Regions from separate parts of the Homo sapiens genome. Here region 1 is linked to region 2. The links come from fine-mapping of genetic effects on gene expression. A gene starts in region 2. The other region holds a variant in brackets. All regions are shown on one strand. Distances are from middle to middle. Region 1 has its middle 25 kb from the start of RAB33B. Region 2 holds the start of RAB33B-AS1 (RAB33B antisense RNA 1).

What was found. PIP is the estimated chance that this variant, and not a neighbour inherited with it, causes the effect.
Region 1: its variant is fine-mapped to the expression of RAB33B-AS1 in tibial nerve (GTEx, PIP 0.90).

What each region holds. Positions count from the first base shown.
Region 1 is chr4:139,478,066-139,480,976 of GRCh38, forward strand. No RefSeq gene overlaps it. Among named protein-coding and RNA genes, the nearest start is that of RAB33B, 25 kb to the left of the region's middle. The variant A/C (reference allele first, on the strand shown) is at 1,381.
Region 2 is chr4:139,452,492-139,455,402 of GRCh38, forward strand. It overlaps RAB33B-AS1 (RAB33B antisense RNA 1), which reads right to left and starts at 1,550. Exons shown (of 1, transcript NR_159964.1): 1 at 1-1,550. It overlaps RAB33B (RAB33B, member RAS oncogene family), which reads left to right and starts at 1,630. Exons shown (of 2, transcript NM_031296.3): 1 at 1,630-1,953. The coding sequence starts at 1,705. RefSeq lists enhancers at 918-1,257, 1,878-1,927 and a silencer at 1,328-1,657.

The DNA of each region.
Region 1 (2,911 bases), 26 kb after region 2:
TTTTGTTTTGGTTATTCATTCCATAAACTTAACAGAGTATATGGAGCCATTTTATTACTTCTCAGCTCCTCATTATTAATCTTTTCTTGCTGCAAATGGAGAGTTCCATGTTTCAATAAAATGTGATCAGTAATGGGACTTCTTTTTTTAAGTTAAATTTTTGTATAGGAAATACATTCACATGGTTCAATACTTGAACCATTCACAAAAGAGTAAATGGTGAATTCTCCTTCCCACTCTTTCTCCCAGCTCCTCAGTTCTTATCACAAGGAACCAGTACCATGAATTTTTTTTGTTTCTGTTTTTGTTTTGAGACAGGGTCTCAATCTGCAACCTAGGCTGGAGTGCAGTGGTGTGATCTCAGCTCACTGCAACCTCCACCTCCTGTGCTAAAGCAATCTTCCTACCTCAGCCTACCAAGTAGCTGGGACTACAGGTGCACGCCACAACACCCAGCTAATTTTTTGTACTTTTTGTAGAGCCACGGTTTTGCCATCTTACCCAGGCTGTTCTGGAACTCCTGGGCTCAAGTGATCCATTCACCTTGGCCTCCCACCCCAGTTCCCACGCTGGGATTACAGGTGCGAGCCACCACACCTGGCCCCTGAATTTGCTGTTTCTTCACATAACAGTATACCCTGGAGATGAATTCATGTTAAAATATGTAAGCTTCATCATTCTCTTTTAGGTCTCATGGAATTCCTTTAGTTGGCCATTATTTAGATAGCCCTCTACTGATGAACATTTAGGTTGTTTCCAGTCTTGCTATTACAAGCATTACCAAAATGGATATCATTTTACATAAGTAATTTCTCAAATGTGTGAGTATATACAAAGGGAAAATTCCTAGAAGTGACATTGCTAGATGAAAGGTATCTGTGTTTGCAATTTGGGTTTCTAATCGCCCTCCTCAGAGGTTGCACTAGTAATAAAAAGCATGCCTGATTCCTCACACACTCACAACACAGTCTATTATCAAAGGTTTTGACATTTGGAAGGAACATTAATAGGTGAAAAATGATATCTCACTGTGGTTTTAACTGGCATTTATCTTATGAGTAGGGTTGAGCATCTTTTTATATTTAATGTTTACATTTTGTTTTCTGTTGAATTGTCTGTTCACATTCTGTCAGGTTTTGTTTTTTTGCCTTTTGTAGGGATACTGAATATTTTGGGTAAGTTAGTGATGTTTTATTTTTTTTTCCTAGTTTGTTTTTTGCCAAATGGCATTGCTTCTAATGGTTTTTGGCATGAAAATAATTTTAATGTAGTGAAACTTAGCAGTCTTTTCCATGACTCTCATTTTGTGTCATAATTAGAAAGACTAACCTTGCCTGAGATAAGAATTCTCGGCCAGATGCAGTGGCTCACGCCTGTAAT[A/C]CCAGCACTTTGGGAGGCCCAGGCGGGCAGATCACTTGAGGTTGGGAGTTTGAGACCAGCCTGGCCAACATGGTGAAACCCCGTCTCTGCTAAAAATGCAAAAATTAGCCGGGCATGGTGGCAGGCGCCTGTAATCCCAGCTACTTGGGTGGCTGAGGCAGCAAAATCACTTGAACCCGGGAGGCAGAGGTTGCAGTGAGCTGACATTGTTCCACTGCACTCCAGCCTGTGGGACATAGTGAGACCCTGTCAATCTCTCTCTCTCTCTCTTTCTCTCTCTCTCTCACACACACACACACACAAGTGAATGTTAGCTATGTACTGGATAATTATGATGTCTCAATGTAGGTTTATCAAATGTAATAAATGTACATAGTGAGGGAGGCCGTGTGTATGTGTGGATGGGCAGGGGCTCTGTGGGAACTTGATGGTTTCTGTTCCATTTTTCTGTGACCCTAAATCTGCTCTAAATATAAACATTATTTTTTTATTATACTTTAAGTTCTAGGGTACACGTGCACAATGTGCAGGTTTGTTACATATGTATACATGTGCCATGTTGGTGGGCTGCACCCATTAACTCGTCATTTACATTAGGTATATCTCCTAATGCTATCCCTCCCCCCTCTCCCCACCCCATGACAGGCCCCGGTGTGTGGTGTTCCCCACCCTGTGTCCAAGTGTTCTCACTGTTCAATTCCCACCTATGAGTGAGAACATGCAGTGTTCTGTCCTTGCGATAGTTTGCTCAGAATGATTATAAACCCTATTTTTTTAAATAGATGTGTCAGAGACTGCAGGTTGCCTACCCAATTTTTGTCTTCCCTCTTGTATTAATTTCCTAGGCTGCAGGAAAAAAGTACCATAAATTGGGTGGCATAAAAAACAGGAATGTATTGTCTCACAGTTCTGGAGGCTGGTAGTATCAGTAGTGTTGATTTCTTGTGAGGCCTGTGAGAGAGAATATGTTCCATTTCTCTCCTGGCTCACTGCAGCCTCGACCTCCTGGGCTCAAGCAATCCGCCAAGCTCTGCCCCCTGAGTAGCTGGGAACACAGGTGCATGTCACCATGCCCAGCTAATTTTTAATTTTTTTTTTTTTTTGAGATGGAGTCTCACTCTGTTGCCCAGGCTGGAGTGCAGTGGCGCCATCTCAGCTCACTGCAAGCTCCGCCTCCCAGGTTCACGCCATTCTCCTGCCTCAGCCTCCCGAGTAGCTGGGACTACAGGTGCCTGCCACCATGCCCGGCTAATTTTTTTGTATTTTTTTAGTAGAGACGGGGTTTCACCGTGTTAGCCAGGATGGTCTCGATCTCCTGAACTTGTGATCTGCCCGCCTTGGCCTCCCAAAGTGCTGGGGTTACAGGCGTGAGCCACTGCGCCTGGCCAATTTTTAAATTTTTTTTGGTAGAGATGAGGTCTCCCTAGGTTGCACAGGCTCATCCCAAACTCCTGGGCTCAAGTGATCCTCCAGCCTCGGCCTCCCAAAGTGCTGTGATTACAGGTGTGAGCCACCATGCCTGGCCAGATTT
Region 2 (2,911 bases):
TCCCTCCTTTGAATGGGATAGGTAGAGCAGATTAGAAGAAATATATTCCGAGGCTCTCTAATAGTTTCTGGATGATTAACCTTCATGAAAATAACCTCACAGATAAGTAATTAGGATTTTTCAGCCCATTTCTATAAACTAAGTAAACTTTTTTTCTAGTGAACATAACTTGATATATTAGTGACTGTAGAAAGTCTTTCTACAGCAACAGGAATTATATCAAGGCTTTTGCAAATTCCTGGCAACTCCGGGCATGTTTAAGTTCTACTACTCATCTGTTCTGACTATATTTTCATCTGATGGAATAAGCAGTTCATCTCCTTTCCTAGAACTTTTAGTGCTCTACTGTCCCCCTCACTTTAGTTAAGGTCTGCCATGTCCTCCTCTCCGACAGTCCTTGACTTTCCCAATGGCATATTCATCTGCTCAAACAGATGTCACTGCAAAACAAAACAAACTTTTAACAAAAAGCAATGTTTGCATATTTGGGGCCTTTTGTATGACAATATTGCACGTTTCCTCAGAAAAATTCACGGAGATTCTTTAAGGTTGGGGGTTTAATCTATTGATATTTTCCTTAGGTAGACAAAGACAACCTCTAAGTGCGCTCAGTTAATCTTTAACCGCTACATCATCGTCACCCAGGCACTAAGACATAACTAGGGCATAATGAGTTTTATTTCCACCAGGGGCGCCTAGTAACTACCAGGTTCAACGCTCCCAGGTGGCCGACATGTGATGTGCTCTACTGTTTGGGCTGGGGATATTAGCTCAACAAACTCTGGCCACAAGGATCACGCGGATATTCTTGGGGATGCCTAGCGAAATGCGCTGTACCTAGGCCTCGAACTCTCGCCTGCTCTCCGGTGGGCGGTCTCGAACTCCAGCCTGCTCTCCGGCAGCCCACAGCAATGCGCCTGCCAAGACCTTAGGCTGCAAAACTCGCCACGGCCCAGAGCTCGCCTCCAAGTGCGCCCCGCACAGGGCAAGCTTTCGGCGAGGACTCGCGTCCCACCCATCTAGCCCTGGCCGCTGTCCCAACTCCCGCAGTTCACAGAGGCGGCGGCGGTGAGCGCAGCCGATGCCACATCCTCAGCGGCAAGCTGAAGAAACCTGTCTCCTCTCTGGGGCGACCAAACGATACGTCGATGCCGGAACCGACCCGACGCCGGAGCCGTCGGCTCCGTCCTTACCGTTGCTCTCCAGGTACACGCCCCCGTCAAAGGCGGCTCTGCGGCCCTCTCGCGAGAGAGTGCCCGTGGTACCTCCTTCCTCTCAGTTGTCTGTCTCTCCCCGCCCCCGGAGTGATTGCGCGGCTTCCTCCAGAGGGCGGGAACCTTGGACGTGGCGGGGCTGGGTCAGTCAGGGCGCTGGGCCCAGCCTCTCTGCAGGCTGGCCTTCCGCGCTGCCGTGAAGCCCCCGACAGGTCCCACGCCTGCCTAGGTAGACCGGCGCCAGCCCGAGTGACGCCTGGCGTGTGGCCGCGGGCAGGCGGCTCCGTGCGGCGGGGCGGGCGGGTGCCACACCTGTGCGGGCAAGGGCGGGGCGGGAAGGTGCGCAGGCGCGCTCGGGGCTGGTGGGCGGTGGCTCCTGGGAAGTTGCGCAGCCGAACTGGCCGGCTGGGCGCGCGCTCTTGCGGTGGCGTAATCTCTCAGCCTTTCTGTGTCTCCTTTCCTCCGCCTCAGTTTGGGGCGGGTCGGGGGAATGGCTGAGGAGATGGAGTCGTCGCTCGAGGCAAGCTTTTCGTCCAGCGGGGCAGTGTCAGGGGCCTCAGGGTTTTTGCCTCCTGCCCGCTCCCGCATCTTCAAGATAATCGTGATCGGCGACTCCAATGTGGGCAAGACATGCCTGACCTACCGCTTCTGCGCTGGCCGCTTCCCCGACCGCACCGAGGCCACGATAGGGGTGGATTTCCGAGAACGAGCGGTGGAGATTGATGGGGAGCGCATCAAGGTGAGCGGATGGGGAACTGTTGGGGAGGACAGGGTGACAGGTGTCCCAACCCCACCGTGGGCTGGTCGCTGGCCGTGTGCACGGTGTGTGTGCGCTCCATTTTTTTCTCACGCTGATGAGATTGGAGTTGGGGATTGGAAGGATTGCAATACTGCAAACTTCTAAGGCAGCGTTTCTCAGACTTCATTGTGCATGCGATTTACCTGGGGATCTTGTTTTTGAAAATGCAGGCTATGATTTAATAATCTCGCTGATGATGCAGGTGCAGCTAGTCCGTGGACCACACTTTGAGTTCAGGAGTGTAGGGCTTATCTACCGACCCATTTACTGTGTGTGTCGTGTGCTGGGAGTCAGTCAAATATGAACGGAGGAAAAACAGTGAAATTGCGCGAGAATGGAAAATTCATTTAATCAGTAATAGTTATTAAACATTCATTCGAGCAGTGCCTTAGATGTTGTGGAAGTAAAGCCTATTGCCTTTGAGGAAGTACTTAGGTATTCTCTTGCATACAGTTTTGCTGTAGTAGTTTCTTTATGATACTGATTTTAGAAAAATCTATTTTCCTGCAGAAACATTCTATATGTGATAGTTCCTACTCAGGTTGCCAAAAGCATTTCTCATGATGCCACCTCAGACACACGCCCAATTCTTTATTCCCTTTAAGTCGTTATTTTTGGTCCCTGGGACTGGGGACACTGAGTGACAGTAATAGTGGAGAAGGTAGTATAGGCCCCAGGGCAGGTTTGAAGTTCTGAGGGGTTGGAATCTAACAGTGGAATGAGGATCAATGACAAGGCTTAGGCCTCTTGATGGTATAAACCTTAGACACACCTTCATAGCAAGCCACCACTAAATGCCACCTGTTGATGCCACTCCTTAAAACATAGGTGGAACCACCTTGCCTTATACTACTGCTTTAAATCAGCGATCGTCTTTATCTCAGTCTCTTGGTGGGGA